Linked DNA regions of Homo sapiens. The protein of the gene in region 2 purifies or fractionates together with the protein of the main gene of each other region. This does not show direct contact. Each region holds a gene or a part of one and is shown on either strand. Other genes may lie near its edges.

What was found. Proteins that work in one complex are often made in the same cells at the same time.
Region 1: the proteins of MEIS2 (region 2) and PIGL purify together in Homo sapiens (affinity purification with mass spectrometry; 3 studies listed by BioGRID and IntAct, with this or other methods). This does not show direct contact.
Region 3: the proteins of MEIS2 (region 2) and PBX3 purify together in Homo sapiens (affinity purification with mass spectrometry; 4 studies listed by BioGRID and IntAct, with this or other methods). This does not show direct contact.

Annotation. Positions count from the first base shown.
Region 1 is NC_000017.11:16,311,210-16,318,237, forward strand, and holds part of PIGL (N-acetylglucosaminyl-phosphatidylinositol de-N-acetylase), read left to right. Parts: intron 1-2,337; coding exon 2,338-2,405; intron 2,406-2,702; coding exon of another isoform or gene 2,703-2,760; exon of another isoform or gene 2,761-2,963; intron 2,964-5,471; coding exon 5,472-5,503; intron 5,504-5,585; coding exon of another isoform or gene 5,586-5,875; exon of another isoform or gene 5,876-6,565; coding exon 6,566-6,699; intron 6,700-7,028.
Region 2 is NC_000015.10:37,034,550-37,041,577, forward strand, and holds part of MEIS2 (homeobox protein Meis2), read right to left. Parts: intron 2,411-7,028; coding exon 2,265-2,410; intron 1-2,264. UniProt on the Homo sapiens protein: Involved in transcriptional regulation. Binds to HOX or PBX proteins to form dimers, or to a DNA-bound dimer of PBX and HOX proteins and thought to have a role in stabilization of the homeoprotein-DNA complex.
Region 3 is NC_000009.12:125,750,373-125,757,400, forward strand, and holds part of PBX3 (pre-B-cell leukemia transcription factor 3), read left to right. Parts: intron 1-7,028. UniProt on the Homo sapiens protein: Transcriptional activator that binds the sequence 5'-ATCAATCAA-3'.

The sequences.
Region 1 (7,028 bases), on a different chromosome or scaffold from region 2:
CTTCAGTCCTTGTTGTCGTTTTTATATTTCTTTTATTATTTGAGTTAGCCTTATTATTATTATTATTCAAATTATTATTTGTTTTTTCTTTTTTTTAGCAATTATTATTATCATTTATCTCAGAAAATCTCTATGACAATTGTGTGAAGTACAATTATGATTACATATGAGATAATTGCACCACAGACATGTTATATAACTTGCAAAAAGCCACAAACCCAATAAGTGGTAAAGCCCAAAGCACAGAGGTTTTCTTTCTTTTTTTTTTTTTTGATCATTCTTGGGTGTTTCTCGAAGAGGGGGATTTGGCAGGGTCATAGGACAATAGTGGAGGGAAGGTCAGCAGATAAACAAGTGAACAAAGGTCTCTGGTTTTCCTAGGCAGAGGACCCTGCGGCCTTCCGCAGTGTTTGTGTCCCTGGGTACTTGAGATTAGGGAGTGGTGATGACTCTTAACGAGCATGCTGCCTTCAAGCATCTGTTTAACAAAGCACATCTTGCACCGCCCTTAATCCATTTAACCCTGAGTGGACACAGCACATGTTTCAGAGAGCACAGGGTTGGGGGTAAGGTCAGAGATCAACAGCATCGCAAGGCAGAAGAATTTTTCTTAGTACAGAACAAAATGAAGTCTCCCAGGTCTACCTCCTTCTACACAGACACAGCAACAATCTGATTTCTCTATCTTTTCCCCACCTTTCCCCCTTTTCTATTCCACAAAACCGCCATCGTCATCATGGCCCGTTCTCAATGAGCTGTTGGGTACACCTCCCAGACGGGGTGGTGGCCGGGCAGAGGGGCTCCTCACTTCCCAGACGGGGTGGCCGGGCAGAGGCGCCCCCAACCTCCCGGACGGGGTGGCTGGCCGGGTGGGGGCTGCCCCCCCACCTCCCTCCCGGAGGGGGCGGCTGGCCGGGCGGGGGCTGCCCGCAGCCCCCCACCTCCCTCCCGGACGGGGCGGCTGCTGGGCGGAGACGCTCCTCACTTCCCAGATGGGGCGGCTGCCGGGCGGAGGGGCTCCTCACTTCTCAGACGGGGAGGCCGGGCAGAGACGCTCCTCACCTCCCAGACGGGGGTCGCGGCCGGGCAGAGGCGCTCCTCACATCCCAGATGGGGCGGCAGGGCAGAGGCGCTCCCCACATCTCAGACGATGGGCAGCCGGGTGGAGGCGCTCCTCACTTCCTAGACGGGATGGCGGCCGGGAAGAGGCGCTCCTCACTTCCCAGACTGGGCGGCCGGGCAGAGGGGCTCCTCACATCCCAGACGATGGGTGGCCAGGCAGAGACGCTCCTCACTTCCCAGACGGGGTGGCGGCCGGGCAGAGGCTGCAATCTCGGCACTTTGGGAGGCCAAGGCAGGCGGCTGGGAGGTGGAGGTTGTAGCTAGCCGAGATCACGCCACTGCACTCCAGCCTGGGCAACATTGAGCACTGAGTGAACGAGACTCCGTCTGCAATCCCGGCACCTTGGGAGGCCAAGGCTGGCAGATCACTTGCGGTTAGGAGCTGGAGACCAGCCCGGCCAACACAGCGAAACCCCGTCTCCACCAAAAAAATACGAAAACCAGTCAGGCGTGGCGGCGCGCGCCTGCAATCGCAGGCACTCGGCAGGCTGAGGTAGGAGAATCAGGCAGGGAGGTTGCAGTAAGCCGAGATGGCAGCAGTACAGTCCAGCTTCGGCTCAGCATCAGAAGGAGACCTTGGAAAGAGGGGAGGGGGAAGGGGGGGGGAGAGGGAGAGGGAGAGGGAGCTATTTGTTTTTTCTTTAATTCATTTGTGTAGAAATGAAATGTTGGAATACAGACTGAGCTTGTAGTTAATAAACAGATATTGATATAGCTGTGAAAATGGAAACAGAGGCAATCTATGAATAAATACACTTTTTCCATGAACTCAACCCCAGGACACGGTGGACATTGTCCTTCAAAGCTTTTTTTGCCCTCAGTATGGCATGAGAAAAAGAGAACCAGTAATTCAGGCTGTATCTGCATAAACAGAGTTCACTTAGAAGCTAGCCAGGAATTCTAAATGTGCTAATAAATGGCTAAACCAATAAGCAACAAAGATATTCTGAACCCAAGTTACTATCATGGCTGAATTCCACTCTGCTCCACTGGCTAGGAACAAGAGTAAAACATCAAACCCTGGAAAACAGTCTCTATGTGGTCAACCACAGCACTAGCTACACACCACTGATCTGCTCAGAAGTCACTTCAGATAGATGCTGCATTTGAAAAGTTTCAGGGTTCTGTTCTCTCCTTCCCAAGGGAAGGAGACAGCTCCATTGAAGTTGAGGTGGTGGAGAAGGCATTCAGTGAAAACCCTGTGTTTCTCTACAGGTGGTGACTTTCGATGCAGGGGGAGTAAGTGGCCACAGCAATCACATTGCTCTGTATGCAGCTGTGAGGTATGATTCTCCGGGTGATGGATGTGGGGGAGGGTTTGTTTATTTGATTAGGGCTCATGGTTTAAAGTCTAAAGCACTTTCCCACTTGTTATCTGAGCCCATGAAACTCACTGCTGGCTTATCTTCTAGCCCTTTTTGGCCATGTTGCTCACTGCATCTCACCATGTCCTCTCGCTGAGAAATCTCTCTCAAGTCCTAGTACGAATGCTCGTCTCCTAAACAGCTGAATTCTTTTTTATACACTGAATACTGCGAATGGGGTAATTGACTTTATTCATCTCTTTTCTGTGGCCACAGGAAGCTTGAGGGCCAAATTTGCAAGCCCTGTGGCACTGGACAAGACTTTAAGGAATGAGTGCTGTCAATCAGTGTGCCTCCACCTTCACCATCTTCTTCCCCTTACTCTCACTTCCGTCATGTGTTTTATACAACTCTCAAATCTTTCTTGGAGAAGGAGGATATACATACATAATATGAAATGTGTTTGTTCTTCACAGTCACCCGATTTTACTGATATTTATTTGCATTTTACCAATAAAAAGAAAATGCAAGCTCAAAGGTATTGAGTGACATAGAGTCATACAAACATAGATGTGTTTCCTGTCCCCTAGCAAAGTGCTTCTCCTGGGCCCCTGATCAGTGGTGTGGCAGGCCTGTCCCAGCTACTGAGGAAGGAAAGAAGCAACTTGAAGGGAAGGACTTATTTAATAACCTTCTTCTAAACATGCTTAACACTCAGACTGAAGCAATGCAATATGTAAAGTTGGAAATGACCTCACCAACCATTAAGTCCAATCACTGGGAAGTGGTTTGCCCAGCACCACAAGGTTAAACTATGGCAGAGGCAGAATTCAGGAATCCTAGTTCTCCATTCATTATTCTGTCAGATGTATGTGAAGACCAATCCAAACTGAAGACCCTCCTTGTCCTTAAATTTTACATCACTTGGTGGAAGATGCTAGAATTTTACCCACATACTCTTTCTAGGCAGATTTCCCTGTTTCCTTGACTATGGAATGAGGGGAGGCTAGACTGTTCTCCCTGTAAAGACTATTCGGTTCCTGGTCCAGCCAGCAGCCACAGCTTTAGAAGAGACATGCTCCTAGTCGCATTAGGTCCCTTCAAATTCAGGAAAGAAACATTCCCTGGTTACAGTCTGAAATACAAATTTTTTTGATGATATATGGAAAAATGAGGCAGCCCCAGAGTGGTCTTTCCAACCACATGGTTACTCTGAGGCCTTGAGCTTCCAAGACTAGCATGGACAGCAAGCCCCATGGAGAACTGGAAAAATGGTCCCACCTCATTCTGGATGCACACTGAGCCTGGTGATTTCTCTCCGAGAATTTACACTGCACCAGAGAAAGGATCAGGTCAGGTCTATTGCAAACAAAGAGTACCTCAACAGGCAGGGGGCTGGGGCACTTGAGATTGAGTCACCTGGTCCCATTCCTGGTCCAGTCACCACTGAAGTGGAGAAAATAGAGAAGGCGTCATTCTGGGCAGAGAAAGAACCCAAGGGGACAACTCTGTGTAGATAGAACTGCCTGGGGCCATTTTCCTCAGAAGAGGCTGGAGTGCCACAGGCTCTCAGCACGAAGGAGGGCCACTGTGCTTCAGATAAAACAATTCATGGACATGCCACCAATCTGCCACAACCTTTTTCCCCACAGTCATCTCTTGCCTGCTAAATTCGTTAGACTCACGTTAGTCCTCAGCCACCTTGAACCTTCTGTGGCATCTGGCCCTGCCTGTCCCTCACTGCAATGCTGCTTTGACTTATATGGCACCAGCTTGCCCTCCTCACTCTGGCCTTTCTGGCTACTTCTCATTCTCTTCCCGGCTTCCCTCCCACCAGTGGCCCCTTGGTCCCCCTGTCCCCAGGGCTCACTCCCCAGTCCTCCTCAGCACAGCTTCTCCTGTGGCTTTAAGGGCTATAAGCTCTACTTCCAGACAGCGCCTCTAGCTCACTGCTTTCCCTGGACATCAGAATATCCACAGGGCTTTGCCCAGAGTACAGGACAAGCCACTTCATTCTCAGGATCCCAGAAAGTTTTTTCAGTCTTTTCTTTTCTTTCTTTCTTTCTTTCTTTCTTTTTTTTTTTTTTTTTTTTTTTTTGAGACAGAGTCTCGCTCTGTCACCCAGGCTGGTGTGCAGTGGCGTGATCTCAGCTCACTGCAGCCTCCGCCTCCTGCCTCAGCCTCCTGAGTAGCTGGGAACTACTGGTGCATGCCACCACGCCCGGTTAATTTTTGTATTTTTATTAGAGACGGAGTTTCACCATATTGGCCAGGCTGGTGCCGAACTCCTGACCTCGTGATCCGCTTGCCTCGGCCTCCCAAAGTGCTGGGTTTACAGGCGTGAGCCACCGCGCCCGGCTCCTTTTTCAGGTTTTTCTACCTCTCAGGCTCTGCCAGGCAGTCAGTTCCATGAATTTGTCAATTGTCTCTCAACTTCTCTTGTTTAACCCCTGCTCCCAAGAGTCTCTGTTCATATGTGTGTCTGTGTGTTGCTGGGGCTACCTTCCCAATCCTTCTCTGCCCCCAGCTTTCTAAACAACAAAGTGGGGAAGAGACTTGGAGCTCATTGCAGTTGACACTCCCCTCCTCTTAAGGTGGCGAGCACAGAATGACCTGCACTGTCAGAAGGTAGGCGTAGGGAAGCTCAGAAAGGAGAAAGGAAATATCAGGGAAGAGCTATCAGTTAGCATTGTAAAATATTCCCCCATCATACTCACATTACACTTCCAAGAGAAAAACTATGAAGAGTCCAGCACAGTTACCTTCATTCTCTAATGGGCAAAGCTTGGACCAGAGTACTTCACAAACCACAGACCAGCCTCTGGATTGGCTGTCCCTAGCTCAGGTGCCCATCCTGGTCCCTTCAGCTGTTGCCAGAGGTATGGGATCCTGGAAATCTATACAGTGATTTATGCAAAAGAAACCACCTGGAGACTCACATGGAGGGGACCATGGGCATGGCAGCCTTTCCTCTGAAGGCCCCTCCTGTTACCTACAAAGGAAATGATCCTTACTCCTCTCACTCTTGTCCTATCCCTCCTCCAGGGCCCTGCACTCAGAAGGGAAGTTACCTAAAGGTAAGGCTTGTTCCTTTTGCAAAGGGCCACAAGATACTGTCCCTCTGAGAAACTTATGAGGGGGAAATTTGCAAATCCACAGAGAGCTGCCCTCAGCCGAGCAGAGGCAGTGGTTGGGGAGGCCGCCACACTCTTCCTGACTCACCTCAAGGTACCTGGCAGGTTGTATCTACCAGCAAGTGCCTGCCTGCAGGGCCACCTCTGGATGAGTGGGGAGGCCAGGTTTGCCCCTCAACCTGTCTAGCTTTTTCACAGGGTGGATGTTTTACACCTCTGGTATTCTTCCAGTCTGAACTCAATCCCATCCCCCAACCAATTAGGCAGGTTGTAAATGACTGCTGGGTGCTTGATGAACCAATCTGCCTGAGTTAGGAACTCTTCCTAACCCACATAAAGTATTTGACCCTACCTGACCATTTACTGCATGACCCCCATGCTTAGCCTCTCTGGACCAGTTTCTGGTCTGTCATACCTCACCGGCGCAATACGAAGATTCAATGAATGAAAACGTAAGTAGTTTGTGCCCTTTCTATGTGGGATGACTGAAAGGAGCTTACCAAGCCATGATGACTTTGGAACATGACTATAGTTTGTTTGATTCTTATATCAATCCTGTGAGACAGGCAGGTCTCACACTATCAACACCAATTTACAGATTAGAAAACTGAGACTGAGAGTGGTTAAGGGACTTTGCCAAGTCTGTCAATTCTTGACTGACAGAGCTGGAACCAGGTCTCTAAACTCCCAATACAGTAATTCCTGTCTCCTTTACTTCCTTTGGCTTTGAGGTAGCCAGATCTCAACCTCTAGCAGCCAACCTTTTTCTGGTAGGGCACACCGCAGGGTAGAGGGTAGCCAGCCAGGTCTTCTATGGCCCTTTTACTCGTTCTAGCTGCAAGAATCATGGGCACAGGGCAGCTTTAGTGCCACAGAAACACGTGGCAATGCTGTGGCCACTGTCCTGCCCTGCCCTGAGCCACAGGGTAGAGGGAGGATGCTCAGGGGAAAATCTGGCTGGAGGCCTCAAGGCTTATCACTTCACCCTGTCTCCTCTCCATCCAGGGTGCTCTGTGCTCACGCTTCAGTCTGTGAATGTGCTGCGCAAGTACATCTCCCTTCTGGATCTGCCCTTGTCTCTGCTTCATACGCAGGATGTCCTCTTCGTGCTCAACAGCAAAGAAGTGGCACAGGCCAAGGTGAGGATTGTAAATTCCTGGACACCCCAACTCAGATCCCTGCCCCAGACCCCTGTCTCCTCAAAGCCCCACCTCTGCAGAAGCCCTAACTGAAGGTTTTTCACAGTGGTTCAGCACCTGTCCCTGAGAATTAGGGCTAGGCCAGCTAGATCTTGGGAGGCATAGATTTTTCAATGACTTTAGCCTTTTTTTTCTAATTATAAAAATAATATATGCTTTTTCTAAAAGTAAATAACACATGCTCATTGCAGAAAATCTTGAAAAACATAAAAGCATCAAAAAGAAAATAAAAATAAGAACAATTACCTGCAGTCCCACCAATCACAGGT
Region 2 (7,028 bases):
AGCCACCCACAACTCTAATCGGTGGCCATGGTGCATGCTGGGTGCCGCCCTGGGCAGGGAGGTGGGAGATAAGGTATTAAGGGCTCCTGACACTCCCATGTGAGATTCAACTCACAAAATACAGGTGGTAAGGCTTTCTATATTGGGTAACACGGAGCTTTCAAAACAAGAAAAGAAAACAGCACTTGGCTTCTCCGTATTTCTCCCTTGTGACTCTGAGCGTATTGATGGTGGAGACTGTGAGATTTCTATGCAACTGTTAAAGGTGATCGTCATTTTGGCAAAGTCATTGTAATGTGGAAAAATCACAGAGTTGGGGACTTGGAAGTCTCGGGCCCTTGTCTCAGCTTGACCTTCAGCTAGTAACTTCCCTTTTTGGGTCTCTGTTTCCTCATCTATAAACAGAGCAGCTGCATTCTCTAAGGTTCTACTGTTCTCTGACATTGGTTTTGATGACAGAGAGGTTGAAAACACACGTAGCTGTTTGCTTGGAAAGCAGCTGTTGAAGTGTTTATTTTCGACCAAGAAAGACCAAGCATGGAGGAGGACAGAGGGAGGGAACCAAACAGGTGAGCTGGTCAGGAGAAGGCAGCTGGCCTGTCATCCGCAGCTACACTGCCGTTCTTAGTTGCTACTCTAACCAAACAAACCTTCATTTAAAAATGAGAAACCCCTCCCCTCACAGTCACTCGACTTCCAAATTAAAAACATTTTACAGGTTAGTAAATCTCCAGCTGAGGTGATGTAGCAAAGAACAGCTGTGAAGTAATTTTGATAATGATGAGAATAATAACCACATGGCAAGGTTCAGGGCTTTGCTGTTGCAGCTTCAGTGCTCCTGAATAGATAAAAGTGATTAAATACTCCTGATTATCCCTGACCAATATGTAATGGATTTACAGCCCTTTCAATTAGTCAGTATTTGCTTAGGACTCATTATTTTGTCTTTGGTTAAGTAATCAGTCCAGAGACCGCATGTTCTGTCTAATTCCTCTGAGCCGAGTCAGTGCAGGGCCCTGACCTTTGAAATGGCCATAGCTGCAAGGCAAGAATAACCACTACCACAGCTGCCTCATTGGTTCTCCCAGCTAATCCTGACACCACAGGCCAGATCGATACACCTTAGTTTGCTACTAATGTCCTTACATCAAAATGGCCGATTTAGGAATGTGAATCTATCACTTTTCCCTCCCCACCACTGCTCCACCCCTTGCCCTTTGTAGCTCTGCAAGAAGAGCCCATCAGCAGCCACCACCATAAATAAAAGTGGAACCTTGTCCTGGACCCATGACACTGTAACTAATGTCATTCAGCATGGCAACACACAAGTTGGATAATCAAAGAAGACCTTCAGCTTTCAATGTGCTACTCTATTTTTAAGTATTAGCCTAAATAGAATGGCCTGAAAACAATATTATAGCAAGAAGCAACCTCTGAAATTTTTACTGGTTTCCCAGAATTTCCAAATGAACAGTAAAATATAAGCATGCCTAGTTTATCTGTAAAAATATATTGTAATTTTTTTGTCATAAGAGTCTTAGAGTCAACAGTATGTATCCACACATACAAGGATTGCAAACAGGAAGATAAAGATAAATTGTTACTTTTAAAATGTCTCACATAGTAAAACCGTTTCCAGAAGTGAACATGGTTAGCTTTTAAGATAATGGACTTGAGCAGCTAAAAAAAGAATCTTTAATGTCCACCTTGCAAACAAAGGCATTACAGCACCTATAACCCTTCTGAATTTGTCATATAAATACATGACATATTTGTAAACTGCTTCAGCAATTAAAGCTGCACCTGATATTGTGAGCTTGGACATGCATGTGGCAAGGTGCTTTTTTTTTTTTTTTTTTGGCCTCCTAGAGGAGACAGCTTTCGTTAACAGTGTAATCAGCAACGTTTATGGATTTGTGAGCTCCTTACAGCCATTTCCCTTGGTTGCTGTTGCAGTATCCGAAGTTGCTCTCATACTTTTAGCATAAATAACAAATTTACTTATATATGCTGTTTAGGGTCTTAGATCATTTTAAATAAAGTCCATTCCCAGCTTCTTAAAACAAAAACCTGCTACTTTCTAGAGGGTGCTCTTTGGATGGTAATAGTTGATGAAAAAAAAAACTTTAACTAGTCTGTTAGTCATCAGATTTCAAGAATAAGAAAATAGGCACCTTAGTTTAAAAAAAAATCAGTATGAGACCGTATAACTTGCTAGCAAAACAACAAAAACTATTTTTTTTTTCTCTTTCATCTTGACTTACTGTGAGATGCTGGAAGAGCCATGCTCTCATGATATTTGTTGCTACTTTGGGGAAAATGCCTCTTTTCTTCTGGCGTTTTTTGTCCTTATCCGGATCATCATCGTCACCTGTACCAGGTGAAGCTACACTGTTGTCTAAACCATCCCCTAGTAGAAAGAAATAAAAATACATTAGAGAAAACATCGCAAGGTGCCAACAACAAGTGCAGCTAATGATGAGCTCAGCTAAGCTTGTTGAAAGAAATCCATTAAGCGAGTATATTCTCTTTCATTAAAGTATAATTGGAGACACAAATATGTAAAAGACAAAATTAAACCAGGCCTCTTCAAATGTTAATTTTGTGTGTCTCACACTTGCCCATATCATTAATTCAATTATAACTGTGCACTTGACACAGTGCAGTAGCTCTTTGTCAATTATGGAATCCAATGTGGGAAAACCGCCATCAGAAAACCTATTCAGTGGAAACGCATCCCCATGCCCAGAGTGAACACATACTGTAGGGTAATCAAGTTAAATGTTCTGTAGTCTATATATTCTAGGCTGCCTGCATAGGTGACAGTAACTGTGTCACTGTTCGTTGCACATAACGCACTGCCTGCTCAGCCCCTCCTAGAGCTGTCACCTCCTAAGCACGCACATTCGCACACTTCTCATATGACCCTGCACTCGGCATTTGCATGACATGAAAACTTTTAGCTCTCTGCACCACTGATCATTATCATGAAAAAAAAAAAGATACACATCAAGGTAGGGTGCTCACTTAATCAGAAGTTTCTATCAACATCTTTCTCTTCTGTGCTTTTCTCTGGCATTAATTGTGCATTAGCAAAAATCATTTACTTTTAACAGTCATAGTTATTTTTTCTTGCCCTCTGGCAAAAATGCCTTGAAAGCCTGCCTGGAGGGCATCTAAATTATGTATCTGAAAAACTCTTCTGGCAAGGCATTGCAGGACCCCTACTTTCTTAAAATTCATACGAGCACGTCTTCCTGTTTTTGGGAAGGCATCAATCAAGAGCAGCAATATATGCCATATCCCTACATTAATATTTGAACTAATAACTTTAAAAAAAGGAAAGAAACAAGATCCGACTTGTGGCATAATCAAATGCAAAATAAATGAAGAATACGGGGACAGCACTGGGGCTTTATAGATGGCTGTGTTTTCCTTGCACATCATTAGCCTGGAGCCACACGAAAGAGGAAAACAGAGAAGTGGAGAGTTTATGCTCCCTGCTGGTGTTTAAGAAGCCAGGGTCCTGGAAGGACATCTGGGAATTGCACTGAGATGGGGGTTTTTGTAATTTAAGAATAGACATTCATTAGCAGTAAATGCCATAAATCCCATGCTAAGTAAAAACCTTGTCCAAGAAAGCCTAAAACAATAAACTCTGTGCTCAATGTAGCCTGAGCTGGATGCTCTGTAGCTTTCTGAGGAATACTAGAGATCCATCAGCTCATTCCCAGACCTGCTCCCTCCTCTCGGACTATGCTACAGCACAGCCATCCTGCCCACTGGGCCACTTGCCTTCTAACTTCTGGGTCTGCTCTGTGGGCTTCCCTGTACCTGTTCTTTTCCTTTCTTGCCAAAAAACCCTCAACTTTCTTTGACTAGAGAAGCAGAAAAGCCACAGCAAAGAGCTGGCAGATTAATTTTATTGACATTTCCATTTTCACTGCAATGCGATACCCTCCATCACATGGAAGAGATGACCCTCACTATTTACAGACTGACAGGCCACTTCATTACAACCACCCTGCCCCAAGGCAAAGCAGCTCCCTTCCATCTGCCCAAACACTAGAGCATGACCCCGAAGTTGCTGTTCTCTTTTTCTTTGCCTTCTGTTATGATAAGAAAAAAGGGACCCCATATAGTCAAAGACCGAATCAGTATACAGTGAAACAAAAGGCATTTGACTCTTTCAATACTGGATAATATACAGTCTAGTTTTCATCTGTCACCCTCCCTGCACACCCATGTACACCGGAGTGTCGCCTGGACAAGGAGACACACACACATACACGCACACCCAAGCTCGTGCAGGGACACGTGCACACGCTTTCCACCATGCCAAGGAACTGCTGCAAGGCAAATTCTCACCCACACTAATGGCTTCTGACTGCTCCTTGGCAACCCTAGCATTTTAACCTGGGTGGATGTGCTCTCCAAAATACAGACACTGGAGCGATCTCATCAGCTGTTCATGTGACACAGATGGAGAGTGGCTATTAGGAGCCAGGCAGTGGGCCTTGGGGATCTGAGGTGCTGTTCTGTAGCCTGAGGCAATTTTGAAAAGCAGTACCCGGAGATGAGGAAAAAAAATCCACACTGCAAGTGCAAGTTTGAAGTCAGTCAGTCTGTCTGTCTACCTACCATGGATAAAGATATCTTTGTGTGTAATATGAAATCTATGTAGGCTATCTGAATGTACATTTCAGATAATGTATGTATGGAATAACTCTTCCTTCAGTGTCTTCCAAATATAAAAACACACTCTGTAAACAATGCCTGTGTGTATATATTTCTTTCTAAGCACATATGGTTTCTGTGTATATGTTTAAGCTGAAATTGTCAGGATTTTGTTAAAATCTCATTTAGCTTTTTTTGATAGATTTTTGAATGCACTTATTTTAAAAGGTTAATGGCTTAATTGAAGGAAGTTCAATGAAAAAAGTCATTTGCCTTTTTAACCCAATCAATGACCTTAAAAATGAGAGACAGCATTTCCACAGTGCATCTTTTCTTTCTTAAAAGCAAAGAGGGCTGGTAACACCTTCGAACTTTATGATTCACTATATTTAGTGCAAGAAAAAATATAGCTAGATTGAGCATCCTTTGATGACTGACTTAAACTGGAGAAGACAGGAGCATCACATAAATTTTAATATAAAGCAACCCGTTGTATATAAATGTAAAATATTTGAATTTAGATCCAGTGTAACAAATAATTATAAACAATAATGTGTCTAGTTTTGTATTAATGACTACATACTAGACACAAAATTTTAAACTAATATATGTTTATACCTCTATAAAAAGAGGAATTTTCCTCTCCCAAACACAACAATAAATACAATTGTTTTTTCCTCCAATGGACTGTGGACCAAATCCAGCACAGAGAACTAACAACAGCATAACGAAAATTTTTGAAAGACAACTGCGTGAACTGCAACCTAAAATAAAATTTTGCAGCTGATGCTAGAGTTAGTAACTCAACATGGATATTGGTGTTTTTTTTTTTTTGTTTTAAGGCTGTGTATGTGTGTGTGTGTGTGTGTGGTTGTGTGTATAAGATAGTTGGCAATCCTTGGCACATGTGCCAAATGAGTTTATGTGCTGAAAAAGGTATGTATACCAGCACAAATGCACGTGCCAAATGAGGTAAGGAGATAGCATCTGAAGTTAGGATTCAAAATTGTGGAATCCTTGCGGGCAGTTAACTGTTTCTTGCTTATCTTTTGATTATGAGAAGATACCTCCATGCCTGACTCAGAACACATAACCAGTGATTGTTGGTTGGGTGAGTAAATGACTGAACTTATCAATGAGCTTATGCAAGGGCCCTCCCCACTTTTTGCCAACCCCCACGGTGGGGCAACTGCACACACTATATACCTAAAGGGTGAAGGTCTTGTTCCTCTGGAACAGCTGAGTGGGTTACGTATGTGCACACAGTAACTTCTAAACATGCCAGGAACAGAGCTTCTTTGAAGAGCTGAGTACCCACAGGGCTTTTTTGCAGAGCTAAACCAAAGGCCATTCCATCAGCATTGCCACCTCTGATGATGAAAGGCTATATAAAGAAATACTGGGCATGCTTCTTTTGAAAGGTTGCTAATCCCTTGACCAAGGGCATAGTCTAAGTTTTGGGTAAACATACTCAAAATAAATGTGCATTAGTGAAACATATTGTGTGTGACCATGGAAAGGAAGACTCAAGGCCTGTGGACAGATAAATCGGAAGTGGATTAAATGATCAGAGGAGATTGTTAAAAACACAGGTCCCCAGGCCTCATCCCAGACCTACTGATTCAAAATGTCCTAGGGCGGGAAAAAGGAATTTGTAATTTCAACAATTCCTTGGGTTTGCTTATGCAATCAGAGTATCACTGATGCTTTAACTGGCTTTGGGAAGCCACTGACTAGATTATCTAAATTGAAATGAGATGCAGCCTCAGGAACAGGTAGGTAATTAAAATCCTACTTTACTCCCATGAATGAGGTTAGCAGCCACAGTGAGTAACTGCAATCTGGCCTGGGCCTTATTCACTGTGGGAAAGCCATGGTGTTCTAAATCCCCATCCTAGTCTTCTGGTAGTAAGGGTTAAACAGAAAGAAAGAAGCTATAGAACATTGGCTCTGTGCATTGGCACTAGCTAAAAAATTGTGAGAAATGCAAATTCTCAGTCTTAGCTGAGACCTACTGAATCTGAAACTCTAGGTGTGGGGCCCTGTTAATCATCCCTGCAGGTGGGTCTGATGCCCACTCTAGCTCGAGAACCACTGCCATAAAGCACAGAGAACATCCCCTTGGTTTGCTGTCCTCCTTTGTTGCTGTCTGAAGGCCTGAATCTAATCCCTGGGTCCTCCTTCTGTCTTAAGACTCTGAAGCATTTTGAGAGCATCTCTAGCTGGATTTACACCTATGCTCTCAAGGAAGTCACGCATGCTTTCCTTAGCTGAGCAGATTATGCTCAGAACACAACATTGCTCTGGTAGGTAGCTCCAGCATACACCTACTTAAAAGAGCAATAATGAGA
Region 3 (7,028 bases), on a different chromosome or scaffold from region 2:
CAGCAAACTGCTTTTCATGTTGAGACATTTAGCAGCAGGCAGAATTCAATTAGGAAGCATAAGTCCTTTAGTTGCTTATTTGCACAGGACTTAGTTACACCATTCTGAAAGGAAAGTATAGTCAACCACATGTCAAAGGTGAGTTACGAAAAAGAAACAAATCTTTTCAAAGTCTGGGATTACTGGCAGAGAGAGCTTTGGTAGGGCTATTGCTATTTAAAAACCAAGAGGCAGCTGACAAAAGAAATTTTTGTGTTTTAAAATTGTTTCTGGGGCTTTCAGTGATAACTTGTAAATTAGATTCTCTTTTTGTGCTTTGGCCAGTGGATCCACATTTGCACGTTATCTCTTTTGTAAAAAGCCAACAGCCGACAAAGAGTAAAGGCGGCTGTCTGGGTAGAGGCATCTTCCTGCTAGCCTCTCTAAGCTCGAGAGGGATGGGATTTAAGTACTGAGTGATTGATGGGGGTGAAGCTCTTTCTCTTCTTTCCATTCTCCCCTACTACCCATAGCTTCACCTCACTCTCCAAAACTAGTCTTAGAATGAGACAGGGACTCAGAATCCTCAATTCGAAATAAAACAGCTGTGTAGACATTAGTGTTACCAAAGCAAAGAAAGCGGGGCTGCAAATTCCAAGCCCCCCCACTCCTGCTTCCATAGTCGGTCATGCTTTAGAAACATGAACTTATAAAAGAAACATTGTAGAATATATGTATATTGCATAAATATTTTTTAAAAATCATTTTATTTAATCTAATAATACCTAAAAATTAATTCTTTGTAATTTAGAGAAAGTTTACCTAGTCATTTATGAATAGAAACCAGAAACATTATGTTGATGACTCTATTCTGCTTAATGAAGGGGGTTGAGGGTGAACTGTCATTTCAGTGGATAATGTCATTTCAGTTGTGCTTTTCTTCTAAAACAAAACAAAATCATTTTAAAAAAAATCTGTTTATTTGTAGCTCTGCCAGTGGATTTTGAGGTTTCTGATCAGGCAGTGAACACTGCCAGTTCTTATGCACATGGGGGATTTAGTTTAGAAAACATCTGTTTCCCCCTCTACCATATATGAAAAGGTATTTTTCCCTTCTGACAGATAAATGGGTAATCTACTACAATTATATTATTTTCTTGTTGAGAGGTAAGGAAAGTATACTTCTACTATAAGATGCTGCTTTTTCTTGAGAATATATTCTTTCGTAAAATTGATCATACCATTATTTTTGGGCAGAAATGTCTCTCATTGTTGAATTGTGATATTTGTGCATTTTGAGAGCACCCAAAAAGTTGTAGGCTTTAAAATAAAAATAGTTGTTTATTTTAAACCAAGTAACCAGTGAGATTATTGTTGATATGTTAAGATTTTTCTCCTGATTTTTAAAGCCATATTTTATCATCTGTCTCTTATTAAATATCCCTGATGCCACAAGGTCTGCTCACCTGCATACCTCTTTTGGTGTATGCCCCCACCTCTTTTTGGTCATCTTAATCTTAATTGTTGAAGTGCTTTCCTTTGTGAAATATTTCATCCTGAAAAATCTTGTCTTCTTTCCAAAGCCCTTAATTGTGCGAGTTTAAGTGAAGGAAATAGTTCTTTTTCAAGAAAAAAATATTTATTTTTTAAATGAAATCCCACATTTTAGTAGATAATATGAATCACATTATTGTGAAAAATGTTATGCATGAAAAAAAATAAACACAACCTTTTCCTTTTCAAATAATAGGTTAAAATACTCCATGTTGATGGCTGCCAACCAAACTCTGATTTATTGCCACCACAAACCCTAAATAGCGTTCATTTACTAGTAATGTCTAATGGCATACATGATGGTTTGCCAGATTTGTAGCCTTTGTGAGGCTTATAAGTAGGACTGACTTGGGAAGATCATAAAACTTAATGAACTTCTCTACTGCAGGAGGTGTCCGCAGGGGAAGAGAAAGGCCTGCTTGGTTGGTTGGGCTGGTTGAAGTATTTTTTATGTTTAAGGAGAAGAAAATGACTAGTAAAAATGCCTTACTTTTAAAGGAACCCTCCCTAGAAAGAGTCATAAGAATTTTAGATATTAAAACTAGATCAAGAGTATAGTTTACAAGTGAGGTTTTATGTGCATTTAGTATATGATGTGAGATTAAACCTTTTATCTTTATTGCTAGAAGTGTGACTAGCTTTCAAAGAGACAAGGCAGTACTGTCATTCGACACCTCTCTATTTAATTGTGAACCCACAGGTTTAGAGACTCTTTGGAGTCTTTTTTTGGTGTGCTTCTCTTTTTAAGGTTTCAATATAAAAATCTGTTACATTTTTCTTTGTACAGTGCTGTGTGATTCTTTTAATTCTACATATGTAAAAATCAATTTTTTCAAGTGAAAATTTAGCAAGAAAGGTGAAAATTGTTATATATTAGTCTAAATGTTATTATATATTTTGCATATGCTTTTAAGTTGCTCTTGCACTATTTCCAATATAATTATCATCTTTTGTTTCAAGTTTTAAAAACAAATGCACTGTTCCATACATGATTCCTTTTTGTGTTTTCATGAAACACATTTTGTTTTAATGAACTTATTTTCAAGATTTTAACAACTTTTTATTGTGGACACCTTTGAAACATAACATGCAGAGAGCAGAGACTCTTGAACCTCCCATGAACTCAGTGCCCATCTTCAGCAATTAGCAATACTTGGCCAGTCGTGTTTTCTCTGTAATTCCCACCATTCCAAAATTATTTTGAAGCAAATTTTAATGGTTCTTTAATGTTTTAAGTTTCATATCAATTTTAAGCATTAGGTCTGCTTATATTGGAAATATTAAGTGATTAAACAGGAAAAATACAAAGTCAGAGTATCTTGGAAATGTTATAAATTATATTGCTTTATCAATATATTTTTCTTAACTTAATATTTTACCTTTTTTTTTTTCTATTTTTATAGATTTGGTATCTTACTGGAGCTTTTGTAGGAGGTTTTCAGAGAAGTTGTAAAAGAAAGGGATTTTTCTACTTCTTTATTCTTCCATTTCCATCCTAACAAAATAGCACATATAATACATTTGTAGAAAACCTGGAGAAAAATCTCATTGCCAAGCTGGTTTAGAACCTCATGATCTAAAGTATCATGTGGATATTATCTTTAAAATATAGAGACATTTTCCAATCCTGTTCTTTATTTTTTTCTTCCCAATAAAAATGTATTGAACTCTCTTGTCAATACTAACTTGATCTGTGCAAGTAATTCTTTTGTTCCTTAGTTTTAATGACCCTCATTTTATTACAGATTTGAATAGTTTTGGTATTTTATTTGGGACTTTACTATGTTATTTTATTAATTTACATAATTTTATTCTGAATTAGAAGTCTTTTAATACACTAGCAAAGGAGGCCCCGACTTGCCCCAAAGAGCACACTGGTTGATCGGCTTTCATAAAATGTACTTGTCTACATTTTTCATACTATGATGCTTTTCCTTTTAATTAATTTTGCCTGTATATTTCCATCTCAATTTATAAATTTTGTAAAAGGTTACTTCTGAGGCAAATTTAAATTAACGTATTAGTTGGATTATTTATATTTTGATACTTTATAGTGGCATGGTATAGGATGAAGTTACATTATATGAAGTGGGACTATAAGAATTGAAACTGCATTTCGTGAACCACACCCTAAGTCAGTCATCACTTTATTTTGTACTCTACCCTGAGGTATCTATTTAGAATAAATGCTTAACACATCAGCACTAACACATCAAGTTATATAAGGTTTTAGATTATCTTTTCCCTATTCGTGTTTGTGAACATCTTTAGATATTTATTAGTTCAATATTGACATTATGAGAATAATGTTTTGTTTTCTCAGCAGTCTTGTGTTTTAGCCATTTATCAGTGTGATCAGCATGATTTAGGTATTAACTGACTAACAAAGCTTACACATTACCACCACCTCCCCCTCAAGCCCGTGTTGACCTTTTCAAGCATTTGCTCTACTTCAGTAGGCCATTTGAGTCTTCAAGTATGAAGAGAGTAAATAATTTATATCACTATGTAGTATAAATTGGTAAAAGTTTTTCAGAACTAGCTATCTGATTTTTTACAAAGTTATTGAAGTTAATCAGACAAATTGCTATCACATCTAGTTGACAGTGCTATATTTAGCAAATAATAAGTAATTCTTGAATGAGCTACTGAAAAAATAAACCACCTTTTTATGCCTTCAAACTCAGAACATATTAAAAAATAAATTTCATTAATCTTCAACACTTGATTCTAATTATCCCTTTTGTAGGCAGAATTGCAACAAGAATTTCTTCTGTATTATTTTTTCATAGATATATTCCATAGTATAATATGTTTGTAGGTTTTAATGGTAACTAGTTTACTTTGGCACTAAATTTGAGTGTATATCTAGCAAAAAAATTGGTGTGATAGAATGTATCAAACTGAATTGGCGTAACTTTTTTTGTATAACTGTCTACGTAATAGTAACAGGTTAGTATGAAAGCAATTAAAAATATTTATGGATAAAAATAATTGTTAAAAGTTTTCTACTTCTTTCAACTTAAGTGCTTTAAAAATGTTAAGCTGTTTAGACAATAACTCTTTTTTAGTGATCATATTAATGAGGACTTGGTATACAATGTAATCCTTTTAATGCTGATGAGTCCTCACAATGTTTAAACCATTATTTGTGAGACTCAACATGTTATGGCAAAATGATTTTTTGTTTGTTTTGTTTTCTTTTATGTGATACATCAGTTTTCAAAGCATATTTCTTAGGCTTCAGAGTCCAGCAGGTGGCTTTTTACATTAAAAAATTCATAAATTTTAAAATCCCATAAAATTTTATTTCAAATTCAAATTAACTAATTGAGAATGTCAACATTTTCACTGTCTCTATATTAACATTTATAATAGAACAAATGGTTGCATATAGAAATTATCTGCAACAGTCTAAATTAAGATTCTAAACAGGCATTACAGATGCTGGTAACTTTGGCAATTATCATTTTGTTTGGTGAACAGTAGTAAAACAGTGTGCGGTAAAAGTGTTTAGAGAGAGAGGATAAATAAATTGAACAGTTTTGCAATGCAAAGTGGTTTGTGGTGTTTTTGAGGATTTCTTGGCTCTCTCTTAACTGCTATTGTGAGCCTGGAGCAGATTTCCCCATTGCTAATGCCCTAGAAGTATTAATTCACTTTGATATGCTAATTAGAGGGCATTATGCAAGAAATGAGATTAAGTGGCAGCATGAAGCCATTTGCCTGTCAGTAAATTGAGAGCTTTAGCATCAGGAGGAGCTTTGTTTTTTTTTTTTTTTTTTTTTTGAGTTTCTCTTGGTTTTGCATATAAATAAAATTGATTGAAAGGTCTAGAGAAGCTTCCAGAACATTGGTGGATTCTTTTTTCCCCCTCCTATGATTATTTAAATGAAATGTTACAGGATTTTTCTGAATATTAATTGACCTAATTGGAGATACTGAATATAAAGTTTTTATTGTAATGTTTCTGTATAAAAATATACTAAAATTTTTGTGTCACCTAGTCTTTTTTTTCCTAAAACATAATTTCATTAACATGGCTAATGAACTGTTTATCACTTATCTCTTCTCAGAAGTGTAAACTTCTGTGTATGGGCTTGTGCACCAATGTCACTAAATTGAACTTCACAAGGATATTTTCTTCACTAGGGAAGGAAGGAAGAAGTTGAATTGGGCTTCAGAAAACTATATTAAATGAGTATTAACATTCTGACTTGAATCCATAAAAGCTGTAACAATTATAATTCATGGTTAAACTGCCCTTTATACAACCTGTGGAATTTATATTTCAGCATATATCTTATAGGTAAGATTACTGATGACATTTTGTGTGGAAGATGGAATTTCATACTGGATTCAGATTTTGTTGACTTTTGTGGCCTAAGCTAGGCCTCTGAATTTTTCTCTATAAAGCTATTTTGTGATATTTCTTATATTCTGGGGAGAAATACATGAATGAATACTAGGATTGCTGTGGGGAAAGGGAGGAAGACAGACCTTCTGTGCCTACAAGAAGGTTAAGGTTTACTCAAACATGGAACTTCTATCTATAAACCATGCATAGAGGATGGAATTGCAAAATCCTGGCCTAACTGTATTTGCTGGGTATGGTTAGAAGGAAGAGGGTTTGGGTAAGGCATTCCTACTGGGGTTTAGTTCAAGTGTCTGAATTCCACCACTGTAGCTGTGACTCTGGACCCAGTAAACCATATCTTCTCTTCAGAGCCATGTGGATTATTTAGTCACCACAGCTGCCATGCATGCATACTACCAAGGCAGGCATCTCTTCGGTGTGCATGTGTGATGCCTGTTAATGGTAATGTGAGTTACGAATGTGCACAGAAAGGAGGATGAGTTTCTCCTGAGACAAAAGTCCTGATTACATTTCGCTGTGAAGACGACTTTTAGTGTACCTACCACATTAGCTGCTTTTCTAAATGAAACACTTGGTTACTTTAAATTCTCACTCCCTTCTCTGATTCCCTGAACTAGTTAAATCAGTGAATCCTCATTAGTCTCTGATTACTTGCAAAATTTCATTTAAAACATATGAAGTTATTTTTGATTGAAAAGGGAACAAAAAGCTTTTGAAATTGCATGTTATTATTTAAACAAAGGTTTCTACAGGCTTTCAGATGTACTAAGCCCTGCAAATAATTTATAGAGGAATTATTGGGAAGGACTTATGAAATTCTTGAATGGCATTTGATGGGGAGGAAATCATTGCATTAAAAAATATATATATTTGAAATGGCAAGCTTAAATGTGCATCTTACCTTTACTATCCAAGTGTCCTTAAATGAGGAAGAATTGACTTAGGTGGTCTTACAAGTTTCATTTTTCTTTCTTTTCTCCTCCCACCATTGTTTTTTTTTAAAAAAAAAACTACAGGTGAAGGTTGTTGGAATTCATAGTCAGATATATCATTTTCAACTTGGAATAGGAACTAGAGCAGGAAATTGATTTTATATTTATTATGAAAGCAAGAACTC